Linked DNA regions of Homo sapiens. The protein of the gene in region 2 interacts with the protein of the main gene of each other region in a biochemical or structural test. Each region holds a gene or a part of one and is shown on either strand. Other genes may lie near its edges.

What was found.
Region 1: the proteins of ABCC4 (region 2) and PDZK1 form a complex in vitro, tested with the Homo sapiens proteins (2 studies listed by BioGRID and IntAct, with this or other methods).
Region 3: the proteins of ABCC4 (region 2) and NHERF2 form a complex in vitro, tested with the Homo sapiens proteins (2 studies listed by BioGRID and IntAct, with this or other methods).

Annotation. Positions count from the first base shown.
Region 1 is NC_000001.11:145,697,368-145,704,394, forward strand, and holds part of PDZK1 (Na(+)/H(+) exchange regulatory cofactor NHE-RF3), read right to left. Parts: intron 1-7,027. UniProt on the Homo sapiens protein: A scaffold protein that connects plasma membrane proteins and regulatory components, regulating their surface expression in epithelial cells apical domains.
Region 2 is NC_000013.11:95,298,429-95,306,193, forward strand, and holds the start of ABCC4 (ATP-binding cassette sub-family C member 4), read right to left. Parts: upstream 3,024-7,765; 5' UTR 2,887-3,023; coding exon 2,813-2,886; exon of another isoform or gene 2,523-2,812; intron 1-2,522. UniProt on the Homo sapiens protein: ATP-dependent transporter of the ATP-binding cassette (ABC) family that actively extrudes physiological compounds and xenobiotics from cells.
Region 3 is NC_000016.10:2,022,964-2,029,902, reverse strand, and holds the start of NHERF2 (Na(+)/H(+) exchange regulatory cofactor NHE-RF2), read right to left. Parts: upstream 3,002-6,939; 5' UTR 2,898-3,001; coding exon 2,685-2,897; intron 1,728-2,684; exon of another isoform or gene 1,707-1,727; intron 322-1,706; coding exon 121-321; intron 1-120.

The DNA of each region.
Region 1 (7,027 bases), on a different chromosome or scaffold from region 2:
GAGAGAAAAGAAAGAGGAAGCAAAAAGGAATAATCAGAAAACAAAATGCCAAAATTTTAGTGTCATCAAAACTAAAAGAAGAATTTTAAGATGGGATAGTTAACAATGCCAAATAATGCTAAGAGGTAGAGAGAATGAAAACAGAAAATGCCACTGACATTCAGAAAATGGAAGTCTGGGCCTGATAAAACACTAAGAAGCAAGTGGATACCAAGTAACAGAAGCAACGAATATTGATATTTTATTTTTTGAGACAGTCTCGCTCTGTCACCCAGGCTGGAGTGCAGTGGTGCGATCTCAGCTCACTGCAACCTCTGCCTCCCAGATTCAAGCAAGTCTCCTGCTCAGCCTCCTGAGTAGTTGGGATTTCAGGCACCCGCCACCATGCCCAGCTAATTTTTTTTTTTTTTTTTTTTTTTTTTTTTTTTTTTTAGTAGAGACAGGATTTCACCATGTTGGTCAGGCTGGTCTCAAACTCCTGACCTTGTGGTCCGCCCGCCTCAGCCTCCCAAAGTGCTGGGATTACAGGCATGAGCCACTGCACCCAGCCTGGATGTTTTTATTTTTAACATTAAGGAAACGATCAGCATGTTTCTGTATCAAGAGATGATATGGAGAACATGGAAACTGGGGTTAGCCTTGGTGAGAGGAAATACCTCTTCTCCAGGGGCAGAAGAGAAGTAGAAAAAAATATGATAAAGAAGAAAACAAGGTCACTTACCTCAGCCTCAATCTCTCCTACGAAGTAGCTGACAAAAATCAGGAACTTGGAGAATATGGAGCAAAAGTACCACAGAAAAATAATCTCTAGGGTCAAACAGGTAAATCAGCGAAGGTGGCCGAGAGGGGACGGAGGAAAAGCTGCTGCTTTTCATGAGAAGACAACTGCCTGAGGAAGAGGAGGCCAGCATGCCACCTTTCAATTTTCAAGAGACTCTGGAAATCTAGATTTACATAAAATGTCCCCATTTAAAAAAACTGACAGCTATTTCAAACTTAAAAGAAATTCTATGTAAACCAAAAGAGAATGGAGCCCCCGAGCTGGCGGTGAACTAAGACAGTGAACTAATGGCCACAGCATTAGCTCACTACAAAGAGTCAATGAATTGAATTAAAATGTCTAAGAAACAACTTAGGTTAAAATATATATATATAATAAACTTGCAGCAGCATGGGTTCCCATGGATTTTTCTTACAGTAATATACATCAAGAATAGAAAAGGAAAGTGGTAACTTTTACCCTAAGTTGGGGCTAACATATTTTTAAAACATAAGGGTAGGCCAGGCGCAGTGGCTCACACCTATAATCCCAGCACTTTGGGAGGCCGAGACGGGTGAATTACTTGAGGTCAGGAGTTCGAGACCAGCTTGGCCAACATGGTGAAACCTCATCTCTCCTAAAAACACAAAAAACATTAGCCAGGTGTGGTGGCAGGCACCTATAACCCCATATACTCCGGAGGCTGAGACAGGAGAATTGCTTGAACCCGGGAGGCGGGAGGCGGAGGCTGCAGTAAGCCAAGATTGCACCACTGCACTCCAGCCTGGGCGACAGAACGAGAGTCTGCCTCAAAAAATAAAAAATAAAGGCCAGGTACAGTGGTTCATGCCTGTAATCCCAGCACTTTTGGAGGCCGAGGCAGGCGGATCACCTGAGGTCAGGAGTTTGAGACCAGCGTGGCCAACTTGGCGAAACCCTGTCTCTACTAAAAATACAAAAATTAGCCAGGCTTGGTGGTGGGCATCTGTAATCCCAGCTACTCAGGAGTCTGAGGCAGGAGAATCACTTGAACCCAGGAGGCAAAGGTTGCAGTGAGCTGAGATCACGCCATTACACTCCAGCCTGGGCAACGAGTGAAACTCCATCTCAAATTTAAAAAAAAATAAAATAAATTTAAAAATTAGCTGGGCGTGGTTGTGCGTGCCTGTAATCCCAGCTACTCAGGAGGCTGAGGCACAGGAATCGCTTGAACCCGGGAGGTGGAGGTTGCAGTGAGCCAAGATTGTACCACTCACTCCAGCCTCAGTGACACAGCAAGACTCCATCTCAAACTAACAAGCCCATAAGAGTAGGATGTGAGGATTTCTAGATTTACAAGGGGCACAGAGCTGGAATGTCAGACTGTGGGGCCAACATGAATTGGCAGATAAGAGGAGCTAGGAGTTTGGGATTGGGAAGATGAAATGTTTCAGGGACTAGCTTAGCAGCATGAGTTGGGAAGAAAGAAGAAGGGACTGTGGAAGCAGTTTCAAAAGTTAGTGGGTTGACACAGGAAAAGTTATCTGAAAAGATCTTTAGAGCAGAATAGTTCCCCATGATGCAATTCTAAAGGAGCCAGATGTGTATACAAAAGGGAATCTGTATTTTTGTTTCCATCTTCCCCCAGGATCGATTCTGAGTAAGGTAGAGTAGAAAGAGCAAGGGTTTTAGAGCCAAACCTAGTTTTTAATCCTGGCTTCACCGCTTGTTAACTGTAAGAACATGGGTGAGTTCCTTAATTTTGAGCTGAAGATAGAATACCCCTAGAATAGGAAGCACATGTGGATGCCGTGAAGATGGCTCACAGTAGAGCATGCAAGGCCTCTCAGCACAGTTTCTGGAGCATAGAAGTCCACTCCATCCAAGTTACTCTTTCCTGTCCTCTGATGAAACGCCTGATGCAATGGGAATCCCATTTTCTGTGAGAATATTTGAAATTTTTCCTGATTTTCTTTTTGCAGAAGACAGGAAGAAATTACAGACTAAGAATGGGCAGGCACCTCAATGATCAGGCAAGGGATTCTCTATCTACTCAGTCCAGATCACTTCTGCGAAGCTAATTTTAGCTGCTGAAAAGTCAGGGCTGGAGATTTTGTTCCCCATGAAAGAAAGCTCAAATAATAAACTCTGGACTCAAAAGTATCCTGTAAGTCTAAAAGCCAGGGAATTACAAAATAGAACCAAATGCTGTGTATCAAGGAGGTAAAAGAGTCCAGGGAGCTTTAACAGAATTTCAAGACTAAGCTGGCCAGAGAGTTCCACCGCCTGGAGTGGATAAGCTCTAACAGAAGTGAACATAGGGACCCAAGGAACAGACAGCAGTGGAGAAGATGGAGTGAGTGAAGCATTACCTTAGCTATAGATACCTGGCCCAGAGAGGGACCTTCATAGCCAAGGAGTAGCTAGTGAATAGGCTCACTCACCAGACAGCATCACTGAAATGCCAAAAGATCAGAGAGAGGGCATGGGATAAACAGCATTCTGCTTGGAGGGAGAAAGACAGAAGGGGGCTGTCACCAGCGATGGCCAGATGCAATGAAATACCATCAGGAAAGAAACAGCCCAGGTACTGTCATCTCTGCTCATCTTCCAAGGTCTGGGACTTAGAAGTGGCAGGATTATTCCATAAATATAGTCATCTACACCTGAACCCACCATCACCTTATCTAATAGTAACTAGGAATCAATTATGCCGTCAGTATCACACCACGAAGACAACAGAGCCTCTCCCCACAAGGCACTTACATAACCAACACTCAATCCATGAAAACACTAAACACTAAAAACTTAGCAGGGGCTGGGCGCGGGGGCTCATGCCTGTAATCCCAGCAGTTTGGGAGGCTGAGACAGGAGGATCACCTGAGGTCAGCAGTTTGAGACCAGCCTGACCAATATGGTGAAACCCCGTCTCTACTAAAAATACAAAAATCAGCTGGGTGTGGTGGCACACGCCTGTAGTCCCAGCTACTCGGGAGGCTGAGACAGGAGAATTGCTTGAACCCAGGAGGTGGAGGTTGCAGTGAGCCAAGATAGTACCACTGCACTCCAACCTGGGCAACAGAGCGAGACTCCATCTCAAAAAAAAAACAAACACTTAGCAGGACTGCTGGTGAGGAATGTTTAACCCTAGTTACTCTGACTGTGGAAGGGTATCTGATTGTATAATCTAGTATGAAACCATAGAGTAAGTTACTTCTGTTTTGTTGAGGCATAAGGAAAAGAAAGGGCAGGGTCTCTCCGGCAACATTAAACCTAGACATTACTTGCTTTCCACTGAACTCCATGCTTGCCTATAAAACACTCTGAACTTTAGCAAGAAAAAAGCCACATTCTCAGGACGCTTGACCACAGTGTGCACTTTGAGGAATGCTGTTCTTGCAGCACTTGTGTGCATCTGTGTAACAAGAAAGAAGAAAACAAACCCACTAGACTTTTGTTAGGAAAATACAGTTGGTGGAGACTGTGCAACATTAAGCCAGCAACTATAGACAGGCTGAGAATTCCCTACAGGCATCAGCCCTGACTCCAAGGCTTCATGCCTCACACCAGCCATGGCTGGCCTCCTTCAGAGCCTGCCACAGAGCCTTGGCACATGCTGTTCCTTCCAACAGCATAAGCAAAAAAATCCTGCTGTATCTGAGCTGCTACTGACAGATGTCTCTAGCAAGGAAGAGATAAAGACAACTCAATTTCACCCTTCTTCAAATATATTTTACCTAGAACAGATCCTATATTTTTATGCAGATCATATTTAAGGCTGCCTGGATTTCTCCTCTGAAAAGCAAAGCATATGGAAATTCAAATACTCAAGTATATTTACTTTAAATAATTAATATCAAAAATAGAAGGAGAAGCAAGATTCTAAAATATGTATTTGCCTAGTGTACTTTCCCATTGTGATAGTTACTGTTTGGTCTTAGCCAGGGATAAATTTCAAATATGAGAAATCAATGAAATCCATTCCATTGAGAATTATCTGGAGAAGAGTGATCCCAGACCCACTGAGTAGTTTTTATTTCTCATTTATGATCAAGAATGGAATCTACTTATCCCAAAGTTCATTTGGCCTGCTGATACTAAGTACCTTCCCTACCTCCAGCCACCATAAACAATACTTTGTCCTATATGGCAAGACTCTGGGCTGGAGTTCAAGGCCTTTCACAGTTTGATTGCTTATCTAAGAGTTCTATGAGTTGGGAGAGGGATAGAGCCAATATTGTGTGGAAACAGAGGCACCCACAGAGAGAGGACACCCTCATGCTGCTGATAGACAGCTCAACCGCCTTGAGTGCCAGCTGAGACAAGTGCTTTCCCCAAATCGACATTTTGTGACTTTTTGAACTTGCATTTCTACCCCCCCACTTTTTTTTTGGTATGTTTAAACTACTACAAGAGTCTTGCCTCGAGACAAACTTTCTAACCCTGGTTTTATTATACTACCATCTCAAAAATAATAATAATAATAATTCAAGAAAAAGAAGCTCGGCCGGGTGCAGTGGCTCACGCCTGTAATCCCAGCACTTTGGGAGGCCAAGGCAGGCGGATCACGAGGTCAGGAGATCGAGACCATCCTGGCTAACACAGTGAAACCCCATCTCTACTAAAAATACAAAAAATTAGCTGGGTGTGGTGGCGGACGCCTGTAGTCCAAGCTACTCGGGAGGCTGAGGTAGGGGAATGGTGTGAACCCAAGAGGCGGAGCTTGCAGTGAGCCAAGATCGTGCCACTGCACCCCAGCCTGGGCAACAGAGCAAGACTCCGTCTCAAAAAAAAAGAAGTTCAAGCTTCTTGCTCAGGCACTGAGGCTCAGCATAATCCAGCCCTACCTCAGGCCCCCAGCTCCTCAGCAAGCCCCAATTGGTCTATGCATGGTCACCCACACGAGCCTGCCCTTTGCTCATGCCCCATGAGCACTTACTCATAGTACGTGCTAAGTAAACATTTGTTCCAAGTGAACGAATTTAAGACCTACCATTTTCAAGGCTCAGTTCAAATTTTAGATTATATACGAATCCTTCCATGACCACCACAGTCTGAAGGTATCATTTCATCTTCTGAATTTCAGTTATCGCTCATGTACTTAACAAGTTCTATGTAATACCTACTGCGAGGCAGGTATCAGGGCTCAACCCAGAATAGCTACCGTCCTGCCCTGAAAGAGCCTGGAGTCCAGTGGGGAGAGTTATGAAGTTTAACTGCTGAACAACGTTGTGGGTGCTGGAATATTTAAATACAAAAGCTTTCTTATTGTTATATATATTTATTGAGCTCCCTACTAGGATTAGGAACCAGCCTAGGTACTTTTTATGGGTTCTGATTCAATCCTGATGGGCCATTTTACAAGGAAAAAGAAAAGAGACTCTGAAAAGTTAACTTGGTTTCCCCTGACTATTTGGATAAGCAGAGTCTGGATTCAAACCCAGTTGAGTCTGGATTCCTTCCACCATCTACCCTGCCTCCCAGGCCTGAGGTGTAGAATGTATTCTGGAAATACAAGTAGTCAGACTAGGAAGAGGAAGTCATCCCAGGCAGAAGGAACAGCAGGAGATGCATTCCCAGAATGGTGAATGGTTCAGAAAGATCAGAGCACAGTTATATGTTGAAAAAAAGAAGTAGGTTAGACTGTGAGCACTGGACTCAGTCCAGTAGACTATAGAGGAGCTTCAGGATCCATGTCGTGTGTCCCCAACAAGATAAGCTTTTTTTTTTTGGCCAGGAGGGATGGAATCTTGCTCTTGTGGTCCAGGCTAGAGTGCAGTGGTGCGATCTCGGCTCACTGCAACCTCTGCCACTTGGATTCAAGCAATTCTTCTGCCTCAGCCTCCTGAGAAGCTGGGATTGAAGGCACCCGCCACCACACCCGGCTACTTTTTGTATTTTTAGTAGAGATGGGGTTTCACTATGTTGGCCAGGCTGGTCTCAAACTCCTGACCTCAAGTGATCCACCCTCCTCAGCCTCCCAAAGTGCTGGGATTACAGGCGTGAGCCATCATGCCCAGCCAAGATAAGCTTTCTTAAGAGCAGGCACCACAGCCCCTTTCTGTATTCTCACACCATCAGGTATGTATTCAATACAACTGGTGGAAAGTCCACGGGCTTTTCTGGATCATTTAGTTTCATGTCCCCATTGGGACCCCATGGTTCTACGCAGCTTTATGAATGCTGACTATCTGTGCCTCCAACCAGGCTTGGCACCTCAGAAACCAGTGACCACCTCAGACCAAAAGCAAACCTTCTCTAGTTGCCACTAAGTGGGCTAGGGCTATC
Region 2 (7,765 bases):
AAACCTCACCACCCCCACCCACACACCCAGTGTTTCCAGTTTTACTGAATCAGTCCAGAGTGGATGCTGGAGAATCTGCATCTCTTAGAATCTCCCAAGTGATGCCGATGCTGCTGCTCTGAGTGCTATGCTTTGAGAACAGCTGCCCTAAAGCACACTAATAGTTGTTACACATGCATCATCTCCAACTGCAGGTACTTTAAGAATTTCCCTTGAGAAACTCTAGCCTTCCAGAACAGGGAGCGCCTTCTCCATGCATTTCCGACAGCACCTGAACTGGAAGCAGCTCAGTACAGCAGCTCCAAAGAGGCTGGGGAGCCAGTCTGCCCAGCTTTGGAGCCTGCTCTGACACTTGATTGTTGTGTGAGTCCAGGCAACTTAACCACTCTCAGCTTAAGTGTCCTCGGAGTAAAACAGAGGTCTACTAGCTCCTTCCCTTCCATCAGGGAAACCGGAAATGAACACCTACTCAAGTCATCAATGGGAGCGCATCACTTCCTATTTCCCTGCCACCTACATTTTGAAAATGCAGGGGGAGAAAAATATAAGGAGGCAGGAGTCACATCTGTAATCCCAGACTTTGGGTGGCCGAAGCGGGAGGAACACTTGAGCCCAGGAGTTCAAGACCAGCCTGAGCAACAACATAGAGAGCCCTATCTCTACAAAAAAAATTTTTTTTTATTATCCGGGCATGGTGACACACACCTGGAGCCCCAGCTACTCGGGAGGCTGAGGCAGGAGGATTGCTTCGGCCCAGGAGTTGGAGGCTGCAGCAAGCTATGAATGTGTCACTGCCCTCCAGCCTGGGTCACAGCTTGCACAAAGCAAGATCCTGTCTCAAAAAAAAAAAAAAAAAGTTCCTTGCCCTGCCTGAAGTTGAGGAGACCATTTGTCTACCTCAAGTTATTATTTGCAGAAACCACACCCATATTCCTTCCTCCTCCACGTGCCCCTCTCCTTAAGAGAAAGGCCGCCAAACAACCAAGAGAAGTTCCTACACCCACTGAGTGTACCACAATCGAAACAAGAGTAAGCGACTCATCCTCTTGGAATCCCCTAGGTCAAGCTTGTCCAACCTGAGGCCCATGGGCTGCCAAATTCGTAAGCTTTCTTAAAACATCAGATTTTTTTTTGCGATTTTTTTTTAGCTCATCAGCTATCATTAGTGTTAGTGTATGATTAGTGTTAGTGTATTTTATGTATGGCCCAAGACAATTCTTCCAGTGTGGCCCAGGGAACCCAAAAAATTGGAGACCCCCACCCTAGGTTGTCCCATAATAAAAGGCAATATCAACATGTGGGAAAGATGAGGCGGCAGAGGTCAAGAAACAGAAGATCTAATAATCATCCAAGTGAGATTGAAGCCCTTCAAAGGTTCAGGCTTATGTAGTTAGCAGACGGAATTCCCCCACACACACCCGCCACTCCCCCAAGACGGAGTCTCACTCTGTCACCCAGGCTGGAGTACAGTGGGGCGATCTCAGCTCACTGCAACCTCCGCCTACTGGGTTCAAGCAATTCCCCTGCCTCAGCCTCCTGAGTAGCTGGGATTACAGGCGTGCTCCACCACACCCGGCTAATTTTTGTATTTTTAGTAGAGACGGGGTTTCACCATGTCAGCCAGGCTGGTCTCGAACTCCTGACCTCGTGATCCACCCACCTCTGCCTCCCAAAGTGCAGGGATACAGGCGTGAGCCACCGCGCCAGGCCAAGATGGAAATTTTAGTTACTACTGTCACCCGAGTCTTTCTCCGTTTGTTTCCTTGCACAAAATGGGTAGGGCTGTGGGCCCTCCCAGCTCAGGAGCCCTGGGGTGGTTTTAAGAAGGTAGAACTCCTGGTAGGAACCACCTGCATCAAGACCATGGATCACCTCTCTGAAGGTTAGCGATTCCAGGGACCCCACCTCCGAGCTGTCCTCCTACGTGGAAGTGAAAGTATTGGAAACAGGGGAAAGAAGCTGGTCAAAGACAGACTCCAGTCGTGGCGGTGCATGTCCCAGTTAAAAGCAAATCCTGGAAAATCTTGTTCAAGAACAGGGTCCCCATTCATAAATGAAAAATAATAATAGTGTTATTTTACCCACATGAAACTTGCCATAACTAGGTACCACGACCCACATGGACACACAGTGAGATTCCCACAAAGAGGCAAAAGGAGAGCCCTGGTCACTGAGACAAAAGATACAGAGACACCGGGACACAGAGAGGTACAACGGGACGTGGAGTTGGATCGAGCTGTCTCGTAAGGAATATCGGAAGGGGTGGGGACACTACTGGGAGATGGCATAGGTCCAGGACACTAATTAGGCTTTGGCTGAGATCAGATAAAGGAAACTGTTCGTAAGCTGCTTACTTAAAAAGAAAGGAAAAGGTGCGTTTGAGTTCAGGAGACTGCGAGTCCCAGAGCAGGAGGCGGGAGCCAGCGAAGGGTGGGCGTGTAAGGGGTGCAGTCGCTTCTCCCGCTGGGCAAGAGACTCCCCCTTTCGGCAGCCTGGGTTCCCCGCCTCCCCACCTCCTGCTCCTCCTCCCCCGAGCCCTAAGGGCCCGCAGGGCCTCCAGTAGCAAAGCCACTGGCCCCGCGTCCCCGCGTCCCCCTGCGCCGCGCCCCGGGGCGCAGGCAGGGACCACGCGGCCGGCGTGGGGGCGGCGCCACCCGCAGCAGAAAGCCCCGGCGTGGACCGCGTGGCGTAGGAAAGCGCTCCCCTCGCCCCCAGCCGCAGAGGGCTTGGGCAGCATCGGGCGCGGCCCCGGGAGAGTGCGTCCGCGGCGCCAGCGGCTGCAGGGTGACCTGTTTCGGGCGGGGACACTCACCAGAAGAACACGCGTGAGCAGAGGTTCGCGTCCTGCAGCGGGTTGGGCTTCACCTCCTGGTACACGGGCAGCATCTTGCCGGGCGGGGCGGGCGCGGGCCGGGGTCGCGCTGATCAGGCGGCGGTGGCCGCGGGCTCCGCTCCTGGACCTCAAGCAGGGATGCTGGGGCTCCGGCCGCCACGCCTGTCCGCTCGGCTGGAGCCTGTGAAGCAGCCGCTTCCGGGAGCCGGGCGCCGGCGGCACGCCCCGTCCCCGCCTCTCAGGCCCGCCGCCTCGGGGGCGCCCGCTACGCGCCGCCGCCTGGAGCCCGGGAGCTGCGCACCGCGTGCGAGCGCGGCCGGGACCGACGGGTGACGCGGCGGGAGGAGACGCGGCGGGAGGAGGCGAAGCTGGCGACGCCAAAGGGAGCCCAGAGCTACGCCCAGGGGTGAGGCGAGGGCCGCCTGCGCCGCTGGATGGAGAGGGTAGCAGAGCGCGCGGCAAGGAGGCCGGGTCCGGAGGTGCCCACGTGCACGAACCCGAGTGAAACTTTCCGAAATTCACTATCCGAGTCTAGGCGCCGACACAGAAGGTGGAGCAGGGAGGCGTCGGCTGTGCCCGCCCCTGCGCCGCAGAAACGCCCCCTCGGCTACGGGTTTGGGAAGACTGGGAGACAGCTGCCTCGTGCTCTAGCAGCCCGCCCCCTGGGCGCCTTTCCCTTCTCAGGACCAAACGACGGTGCCATGGGAGGCTCTTCAACCTGTGAGCCAAACATTTGACCTTGGACGACAGCAAAGTTTAGCCACAGATTATCCTTGTAGAGCTGCAAGACCTCAAGAAAGCCGGGTAACTCGAGAGTATGACCCAGATGAATTCGGGAGATGGATGAATGCTGTCGTCGATGGGGGCGGGCTTTAGGCATCTCACATGTTGCATGCTACGGTGGACCTCTGAGCTTTTTGCTGCCCCCTTAGATTGGGAAAGGAATATAAGAGGAAAGAGAGACTGCCTGATGATTTCTGTCGTCAAGCCCTAAAGCCTAACAGATAACAGTGGCAAACGACACGTGGGTTCCAGAATACCAGTGATGTTCATGTGCATTTCTGAGTGCGTAGCCTCACTAGTGTGTGTGTGTGTGTGTGTGTGTGGCAGTCTCACACACAGTGTCACGATTATGGCTCATTGCACCCTCGACCTCCCAGGGCTCAAGCAATCCTCCCAACTCAGTTTAAGTAGCTAGGACTACAGGCACCCGCCACCACACCCGGCTCATATTTTGTAATTTTTGTAGAGATGCAAAAATCAAAATCAAAGGCTCCAAGTTCAAATACTGATAATTTTTGAAGCCAAATGATTGTCATGGAGGTTTATTTTCTTCATATTTCATGCATGTTTGAGAATTTGGTTTTCTTTGTAATAAGATCATTTTATTGTTCCTTGATAATTTCTCACTTTGTTGCCCAGGCTGGTCTCAAACTCCTAGGCTCAAGTGATCCTCCCACCGTGGCCTCCCAAAGTGCTAGGATTACAGGCATGTACCACCACGCCCGACCAATTATCTCACTTTTAATTCTATCAGTGCCCCATTCAAGGTTATCCTTACTTTATAGATGAGGAAGGTGAAGCTGAAAGGCAGAACTTGTCCAGTCTTAGAGCCAAGAAAGGATAAAACATGATTTGCAATAAGCCTATGTCTAAGCATGGCCTGTCTCCCTGGTGGATGGCCAGTGTGCATGAGAAGTGCCCAGAATATGCTGGTTGAATGGCTGTAGGAATGAATGAACAAAATCTTGTTCCAAGCTTGTGTACTCCCACCTCTAAGTCTTCAGTCATTTCTGTGGCTACCTTAACAAGGTCAGCAGCTGCTCTTCATATCCACCCTGAATGAAAAAAAATGAAAGGCTCCAAGTTCATGGTGCTTGGAACAAGATCATTTTATTGTTCCTTGATAATTTCCCATGTATATTTGCTAAAATAGTATAGTTAATAGCTTTTAAAGAAAGCCTTACACAAACACATATTTAAAAGTCAAGCACAGGCTAGCCAGCATAGTGAGGCTCTGTCTCTACCAAAAGTTTTAAAAATTAGCCCAGGTGTGGTGGCGTACCCTTGTAGTCCCAGCTACTCGAGAGGCTGAGACAGGAGGATGGCTTTAGCCCAGGAGTTCCAGGCTACAAGGAGTTAAGAAGGTGCCCACTGGGCTGGGCACAATGGCTCACGCCTATAATCCTAGCACTCTGGGAGGCTGAGGCAGGTGAATCACCTGACGTCAGGAGTTCGAGACCAGCCTGGCCAACATGGTGAAACCCCATCTCTACTAAAAATACAAAAAATTATCTGGGTGTGGTGGTGGATGCCTGTAATCCCAGCTACTCAGGAACCTCAGGCAGAAGAATCACTTGAACCCAGGAGGCGGAGGTTGCAGTGAGCCGAGATCATCCCACTGCACTCCAGCTTGGCAACAAGAGTGAAACTCCGTCTCAAAAAAAAAAAGAAGGTGCCACTGCACTCCAGGCTGTACAAGCCCATAATCCCAGCACTTTGAGAGGTGGAGACAGGAGGATTGCTTTAGCCCGGGAGTTCTAGACCAGCCTGGGCAACATAGGGAGACCTCATCTCCACTAAAAATGTGAAAATTAGATGGGCATGGTGGAGTAAGTCTGTAGTCCCATGTAACCTGGAGGCTCAGGTGGGAGGATTGCTTGAGCCCAGGAGTTCTAGACCAGCCTGGGCAACAAAGGGAGACCTCATCTCTACTAAAAATGTAAAAATATGATGGGTGTGGTGGCGTGAGTCTGTAGTCCCAGCTGGAGGTTCAGGTGGGAGGATTGCTTAAGCCCAGGAGTTGGAGGCTACAGTAGGCTATGATCACACCACTGCCCTCCAGCCTGGGCTAAAGAGTGAGACTCTGTCTCAAAAAAAAAAAAAGTCAAGCACATAAGAATGGCAAAATATTGATAATTTTTGAAGCCAAATGATGTGTCATAGGGGTTTATTTTCTTACATTTCATGCATGTTTGAGAATGGTTTTCTTTTTGGAGATGGGCTCTCAGTATGTTGCCCAGGCTGGACTCAAGCTGCTGGGCCCAAGGGATCCTCCTGCCTCAACCCCTCCAAGTACCTGGGATTGTAGGCACTCGCCAGCATACCAGCTCATGTTTCAGAATTTCTGTCACAAAAAGGAACACAATATTTTAAGTTGACTACTGTGGGAAAGCTATGATCATTCAATAACCTACCTTTCTGATAGCTCTTTCTCAGATAATATAAGCTATAAACCAAAATAGTCAGCCTTCACCTGATTTACAGTGCCCTTTGAAACTTCCTAAGTTTTCTAGCCCAGTAAATGCTGAGCTACCAGTTCTACTTCCAAGCTAGAGAACCTGTTTACTAAAGTTAGAAGTCTAGTGACTTCCTCTGTCAGACTGTCCCAGAATGCTCTCCCTACCCCCAACAACTGTGTAAGAACCGTCATTAGCCATCTCCAAATTGCCAAAGTGCTCAGTCCCTTCGGCTCCTGCAGAGGCTTATTTTTTTCTTAATTAAGATCTTTTGGAACTTCTTAACATTCTTTTCTGAACATTAACAATGTGGTGTTTGGAAGAGATACTATAGAGCAGTGTCTGACTGCAGAGAGGAGTGGATATGGAACCAGGGGGCCAGGGCTTTATATCTTTTCACTTGTTACCTAACCTTTCTGACCCTTATTTTTCTCAGGTCTAAAATGGGGTCGGGGCGGGCGCAGGGGCTCATGCCTGTTATCCCAGCACTTTGGGAGGCGGAGGCAGACAGATCACCTGAGGTCAGGAGTTAGAAACCAGCCTCGCCAACATGGCAAAACCCCCTCTCTACTAAAAATACAAAAATGATCTGGGCGTGGTGGCATGTGCCTGTAATCCCAGCTACCTGCGAGACTGAGGCAGGAGAATTGCTTGAACCAGGGAGTCAGAGGTTGCAGTGAGCCGAGATCATGCCACTGCACTCCAGCCTGGCGACAGAGCGAGATTCTGTCTCAAAAAAAAAAAAAAAAAGATAAAAATTAGCCAGGCTTGGTGGCATGCGCCTGTAGTCCCACCTACTTGAGACGCTAAGGCAGGAGAATTACTTGAACCTGGGCTGCAGAGGTTGCAGTGAGCCATGAGCCAAGAGCTCGCTGCTGCACTCCAGCCTAGGTGACAGAGCTAGACTCCATCTCAAAAAAAAACAACAACAATAAAATGGGGTCAGGCAGGGCATGGTAGCTCACACCTATAATTTCAACATTTTGGGAGCCCAAGGCAGGAGCATCACTTGAAGCCAGGAGTTCGAGAGCAGCCTGGGCAATGTGATGAGATGCCGTCTCTACAAAAAATAAAAATAAAAAATAATAATAATAATAGTAATAATAATGTTTTTTAAATTAGCCAGGCATGGTGGCACACACCTGTAGTCCTAGCTACTCGGGAGGGTAAGATGGGAGGATCACTTGAGCCTAGGAGTTTGAGGCTGCAGTGAGCTCTGATTGCACGACTGCACTCCAACCTGGGAGACAGAGTGAGAGACCCTGTCTCTAAAAACATAAAAATACATGTAAAAACAAAATAGGGATCAGAATCCCCACTCTTCCTTCTTCACAGGATTATTGTGAGTCTCACAACTTGTGAATACACTCTGAAGGCAATATACAAATTAAAGGATGGGGGTTTTTTCCCATTCATTCAATAAATCGTTAGTGAACGCCTTCTGGATACATGACAGCTAGGCCAGGGAATGAGCCTGCAAAGACGAGGAAGATGTCTTCTTTTTTGTTTGTTTGTTTGTTTGTTTGTTTGTTTTTGAAACAGGGTCTAGCTCTCACCCAGGCTGGAGTGCAGTGGTGCAATCTTGGCTCACTACAACCTCCCGGGCTCAAGCCCATCCTCCCATCTCAGCATCCCAAGTAGCTGGAACTACAGGCACGCACCACCATGCCCAGCTAACTTTTGTATTTTTTTG
Region 3 (6,939 bases), on a different chromosome or scaffold from region 2:
CCCCAAAAGGCAGAAGAGACCAAGACTTCTGGAGGTGACCAAAGGCAAAGATCGTCGTCAAAAGCTGAGAGAGCCTCTGGGAGAGGCTAGGGTGGTCCCTGTGGGCCAAGCCCGCCATACCTTCTTGCCAGCTTCGGAGCTGTGGCTGCCGGTGTGTGCCCAGTCTGGCTTCGGCTCCCAGGGGTCGTGGGCGGGTGGGAGCCCTCGCTGGGCCATCTCCTCGGTACAGGTCAGCTGCCGCCGGCGGAGCTCCTCATCTGTCTCCTGGTCCACCACCAGCAGCCGAGTCTGCCCCTCCACAGCCTTGATCCTTTGCACCACCTGGGGCGAATGGGCGATAGGAGCGGGTCAGTGGCCCACATTCCGGGCAGCACATGGGCAGTGGCACCACTCTGGGCTGGCCCAGGCGTGCGGACAGGCGGCTGGTCTGCATGGGCGGGTGGCTGCACCAAGAGGCCTGCCGGCCCCGCCCCCCACCCCCGGACTCCAGCGGCTCCCTCCCTCTGCACTCAGGCTCCGGACACTGAGGCCCAGGCTGTGAGGGCTTCAGGGTGCTCCCAGAGCCTTGCCCTTAGCCCAGGGTCTTCTCCAGGCGGGGCTGGGAAGGGGCTGCAGGATAGGGCCGCTGGGTAAGTCCTGTCTGGAAGTGACAAAAATGGTGCACAGTGGACCTTCAGGTTTTCAGTCTGCCTGTCCCTGTGCGCGCATGCATCCATCTGTTTCAAAGTCTGTGTCTCCGTCCAGGTTTGAAGGAGAGGTGTGTCTCCCTGGGCCCCAGTTTGAGTGTGTCTGTGCCCATTCCCGTCATTCTCTGCCGTGCAGTGTGGGAGTCTAAACTCCTGACCCTAGGCCTTATATCTACCTCCAGGCCATGGCCATGGGCCCATTCCCTCTGGATCTGCAGAGAGGGGAAGGGCTGGGCTCCTGGCTCGGGCACCCACACACAGCCAGGGAAGCAGGATTCAGGTGCAGCCGGCGAGGGGGAGAGGCAGGTGCACCTGTGGACAGCTGTGGCTTGGTGGCCGTCGGTGTGTGCGTGCAGGTGCCTGTGAAGTGTCTGGACCACGCGGGGGGCCAGCGCACACCCGCGGAGAGAAAGCAGTGCCCACTGGGAAGTGGGCAGGAAGAGGGGCAGCCCTACTCCCACCTGCGGCCTGGGGGAGGGTGGACAAGGCTCCCCACCAGCTGCCGGGCTCAGCAGGGGTGGTGAACAGATAGGAGGGACTGAGCCAGGCCCATCTTCCCCCAGCCCTCCTCTCTCCCCATGACCCAGAGTGAGACAAGAGGAACCCAGTGCCCAGCTGCTTCTTGACTATGTGTCCCAGACAAGTTACCCTCAATCTCTGGCATCAGTTTCCTCAACTGTCAAATGGGGCAGTAACTGCCCCTCTTGCCCTCCTGGGGCAGTGGGGAGAGTCCACCATGGTCTGTGTGTCCAGTCCTCAGAGACCAGCCCCACAGGGCCTTGGAAAAGCAGGTGTTCCCAGGGCGAGGGTGGCAGTGACTATCCAACAGCAGCCTGGCCCCAGCCCTGGCAGCCCTACCCTCAATCCCTCAGGTCCAGGCCCCTGGCCTGATCCCCACATTCTTCAGCAAACAACCTTACACAGCAGACACTCTGGGTGGAAGGCATGGGGCCGGCCGACAGAGTGACAGACAAGGCACCAGGTAAACAGGAGACCAGCTCCAGGTCCAGCTGAACCAACCTGCTAATCTCTAGGTTCCAGGACCAGCCATGTAGACAGGTTATGGATTCATCGGTGCTGTGAGGGACAGGGGACCTGGAGGAAAAGGGGTGTGTGGACGCTGGACCCCAACCAGGGTCTGGAGGGAGTCCCTGGCCTGTGGGAGACAGACACACCTCAGGGGTCAGAACCCACAGAGAAAAGGCTCTGTTCTCCTTAGCCAGGAGGCAGGAGGCTTCGGCCAGTAACCCCAGCCAGGCTAGGCAGCCTCTGAGGAGGAGTAGTGCCTTTGTAGCTAAGGAATGTGGTTGCCAGCAATGACCAACTCAGCCCGGTCCCAGACACACCAGCTGGGACACACTAGAGTACAGACACAAAGACTCACCGGCCTGCAGACAGTGATGAGTACACTAGCCAGGCGTGCACACACACAGAGCCCAGCTCCCATACGCCCAGGAGTCCAGACCTGCACACACACAGGCACACGTGCAGACCTGTATACTCACACACACACTACAGCACACACAGGTGCAGACACACTGATGCCTTTACTGCGACCCCTCCTGGGTACGCACAGGCAGGCGCATGCACACATGGCTGACCCCAAAGGGACCTGCATACACACGCCCAGCTGTGTTCACACGCACACGTGTACACACACACCCAGGCAAAAGCACCCAGGTCTTCACCTTTCCGGAGGGGCTCCAGGCGGCCCAACACCCTCCTTCACGGCACACTGAGGCCAAAACGCGACCAAAGGGCGAGGCCAGCGGCCAGGAGCCGCAGTGCGGGCCCCTCCCTGCCAGGATGCCCCCCCCCACCCCCGTGCAGGACTGAGCTTCCTGCGCCGGGACTCCGAAGGCGCCGGGCCGCTGCCTCCCGACAACGTCCGCGTCCTCCCCGCGGGAGCCCCCTCGGGCCCCCGTGCGACCCCTGCTCGCCCCAGGGGGACGCGCTCGGGGAGGGGGCGGCGGGCCGGGGGCGAGCGCTGGCCCCCACCTGGTGGTGCGTCTCGCCCTCCACGTTGACGCCGTTGACCTCGACCAGGCGGTCCCCAGCGCGCAGCGCGGCGGCCTCGGCGGGGGAACCGGGTTCCACGCGCCGGATGAACTGCCCGCGGCGGCCCTTCTCGCCGTGCAGGTGGAAGCCGTAGCCCTGCTCTCCGCGCACCAAGCGGCACAGGCGCGGCCGCAGCGGCTCCGGCGCGGCCATGGCGCCCGCTGCCCACCGGCCGCCCGCGGGCAGGGGCGCGGGGGAGCTCGGGGGCGGCGGCGGCGCTGGGCACCCGGCGGTGGCTTCAGCGGCGGCTCCTGTTCGGCTCCCGTCGCCTCGGGATCCGGCTCGGGCTCCGGCTCGGGCTGCGGCACCGCCTCCGCGCCCGCCCCTTCCCCGCCCCCGCCGCCCGGCCGCCCCCGCCTCCAGTCCCAGCCGTCCCGGCCAGGCCCCTACCTCCGCGCCCGGCCAGCCCGAGGCGGGGCAGGGGGAGGCGGCAGGGCTAGGGGACCCCTTAACCACCGGGACCTCTCTGTCTCGCCCCTACTCTGGGCAGCCGCCTTGGTGCCAGCGCCTTTGCCTTCTATCCCAGGAACATTTATTGGATACCTACTGTATGCGCAGCATCGAGGCAGGTCTTGAGGTGGGCGACGGGTTGGACAAAGGGTCTCCAGGCCAAGGGACCCCGACAAAGGGGCCAAAGGGTAAGAACAAGGGCCACAGCCCTCCCCACCCTCCCCGGGAAGCCCTTCCGGACCCCCTTGCCTGTCTCCTCTCGGCTGTGTCTCACCTGGATCCCTCCCAGCCAGTGGCTGGGAGACTCCCTGGCCCAGGGCAGAGTCTCAGGAGGGCCCAGGAGGCAAAAAGGGCTTTAAAAGTGACACGCAGCAGCCCCTCCCTGCATCCTGGGGGCCAGTGGCTGGGAGACTCCCTGGCCTACCCACCGTGTTCGGCCTATCTGCACCGCGTCGGTTCCCACGCCCTGCTGCCATTCTTTCCCTTGGCCGGGCCGGCCCCCTCACTTGTGTCCCAGCCCACCCCAGGCCTGGACTGTGACTTTGCAGGGTGACAAAAGGATATGAGTCTCGAGGGTCCCTGCTACCCACCTCCTGACATGGGCTACACTCCACTGAATTATTTGGGCTCTAAGCTCTGGGTGTGCACAGGCGCTGCTCCACAGTGTCCACAGGCAGGCAGCAGGCCTCCCCTCCCCTGCCCACAGCCGTCCACGTCCCTCAGCCTCTACCTGAAGCACGAGTGTCCCTCCTTCCCCAACAGGACAGTCACCACCACAGTGAAATCATTTAGGCCTAAGTGCATTTTACCTGGAACAACCCTAGGGGACCGGCCACTTCACAGACCTGCAAACAGGCCTGGAGAGGGAAAAGACCCACGAAGCCTCCTCAGCTCCATTTGGGCCCAGGGATGTGAGATTCGGAGTCCATGCTATCTTCACCACCCAGCTCTTCCTCTGTCTCCAATATAGGAAGGTAGCTGAGTCCAGGCACAGCCCCAGTCTGCCCTCCTCCCCAGCCCAGCCAGGCCCCCTTGCACATACCTGGTTCCCAGGGGTCAGGCACAGCCAGCCCAGGCAATTCCCCATGTGAGCCGTAGAAGCAGGCTTGGCGCAGTCCTCCTCTCCCTCTCGTCTCTCCGGGGCCCTGGGCTGGGCTCCCCTGCCCCCACCCAAGCACAGGGCTCGCCTCTGGGCAGCCTCCTGGGCCATGGCCCCCTGGGTGCCCATATCCCGGCAGCTGCCCCTAAAAGCCACTTAGGCTGAGGCGCCGCGACTGCTCGCCACCCCAACCCCTGCAATTCCTGGGTAAGGCTGCTTCAGGCTCCCGCCCGGCCGGCCGCTTCCATCTCTCTGTCTGCATGTCCAGAGGCTGCCTGTCTGGCCTGTGGCTGGCCTCCCTGGACACAGCCTGGTGCTGCCACCCTTGGAGTCTGTGAAGATGGCTGTGGGCAGTGTGACCCACCACCACGCACCCCACATACCACACCTGTTTGGGCTTAGGGGGTCATCCCACACCAACCAGGTCCACCCAAAACCTGGCAGGCTGTAGCTTCCTGGCCACACTAGAGTCGAGGGAGGTGGCTGGATGGGAGACTCCAGCAGCCCCAGGTCCCCTGGGTAAGGGGGCTTGCAGACCTTACCCGCCCTGGGTGGGGCAGACGCCTGATCAGCCTTGGGCATACACCATCCTTCCCTGGCCCAGGACTCAGCTGATTCCTACTCCCAGTGACTGAAGATGGGCTGAGGGGCCGGAGCAGTGGCTCACGCCTGTAATCCCAACACTCTGGGAGGCCGAGGTGGGTGGATCACCTGAGGTCAGGAGTTCGAGACCAGCCTGGCCAATGTGGCGAAACCCCGTCTCTACTGAAAATACAAAAAAAATTAGCCAGGCGTGGTGGTGGGCATCTGTAATCCCAGCTACTGGGGAGGTTGAGGCAGGAGAATCGCTTGAACCCAGGAGGCGGAGGTTGCAGTGAGCTGAGATTGCGTCACTGCACTCCAGCCTGGGCAACAGAGCTAGACACCATCTCAAAAACAATAAATAAATAATTTAAAAACAAATAAAAAAAAAAAGATGGGATGGAGAACAGCATGGCAGAGGGAGGGGCCACAAGGGACATGAGGTCACAACCAGGGCCAGGAACCAAGGAAATATCACCGGACACACTGCTGCTACAGAGTTAACAAAAGAGTCCCCAAAGCCATGAAGGAGCTGAGGAGGGTAACAGAGTAGCAAAGGGCCGGGCAACAAAGGAAGTGGGCCTAGCAAAGCAGGGAGCAGGAGGAATGAGGCAGCCAGAGAGGAACCAGAGGTCACGATTTCAGAGGAGGTGCAGAGTCAGTGAGAGGGGACAGTGAGTCCAGGGGCCTGGAGGAACAGGCGAGGAAGGGTGACCTAGAAGCTCTCGGGGGCAAACCCTCCCAGGCCTCTTCTCCAGCCAGCCTCCGGAAGCTCTCAGCCCTGGTCCGAGGCTGACCTTGGCCCGTATGGGTGCTGCGCTGGAGGCAGAGAAAGGCGAAGGGAAGCACCTGGGCAAAGGTGTTCAGGGGCCGCAAAGTGCTTGGTGTCTCGAAGAAAGGGCTAGGGAGGTGGGCGGGAGGGAGTAGGGTCAGCATCGAGAGGAGGGTGGACTTTATTTTCCTGGTTCTGTGGGGTGCAGATGGGGTGTGGGTGACGTGGGCTCCCCGGGCCCCAGCAGGAGGGAAGAAAGTCAAGGCAGAGGCAATCAGAGGCTTGGGAGATCCCCCAACTCTCCACCCAACCCCCTTAACCCACGCCTGCCAGCATGCTACCCAGGCGTGGGTCCTATCCAGCAGAGGGAGAGCAGGTCTCAGCCGTTCCCCTGGGCTGTCGGTGGGGGGTCCACCGGGGTGGGGGCCGCCCGTGCACTCCTGTTTTGGCAGGACCTTTCCTTCGGGCCTTGAACCCGCATCCCTCCAGCAAGGTCCCAGCGATCTCAGGGAGCCCGAGCCTGGACCTGGACCGGGGCTCCGGGGTGTGGCCGTGGCCTGGGGCCCTGTCTGGGGGTGGGGCCACTATTCCGACTCCCGGTAATGGTCCAGAGCTGCTCAGGCAGGCGGGGCTTCCTAATGGACATTAATGGCCCTTCAAGCATAACCAGACCGCGCCTAGGGCCTCTTCCCTCAGGCTGCACCATGCCTCTCTTTACATTCTGAAACTGGAGCAGGCGGAGCCAGCGCGACAGAAGGAGGTGACCAACAGAGACCCACAGACCAGACAGAGAGAGAAGGCCGGGGGACTGCGACGACCCAAGAGTGGGGAGAGGCAGGAAACCGCTGCCGCCGACGGGGCGACCCCGCCCACCCGTCGTGGCCCCGCCCACTGCGGCTCTAGCCCCGCCCGTTGCTGGAGGCGCGAGTCGGACGCTACCGCCCGGAACAGTAGCCGCGCAGCGCCACCTGGCCGGAACTGGTGGCATTGCATCGTGCGAGGAGTTGCCCCAGGATCCTGCCCATCTGGCTTCCTTCCACTCGATCCAGTCCTGTGGGGTGGGGACTGGGGTGAGGCTGGCGCCCTAGGCCTGGTTGCGCTGCAGGGGAATAAGGGTGTGGAGTGGGGGAGGCAGAGAAGCCTCTCATGGGCTCTGTCTCCCCATCTTGGACCAGGCAAGCACCAGGGAACATCACTGAACGCCCCCCCGCCAGCCCCGCGAGAACAGAGCTTTGAGCACCTTGGCCTGCGCAAGGGGAGGCCAGAGCTGAAGCAGCCCCAGGAAGAACATT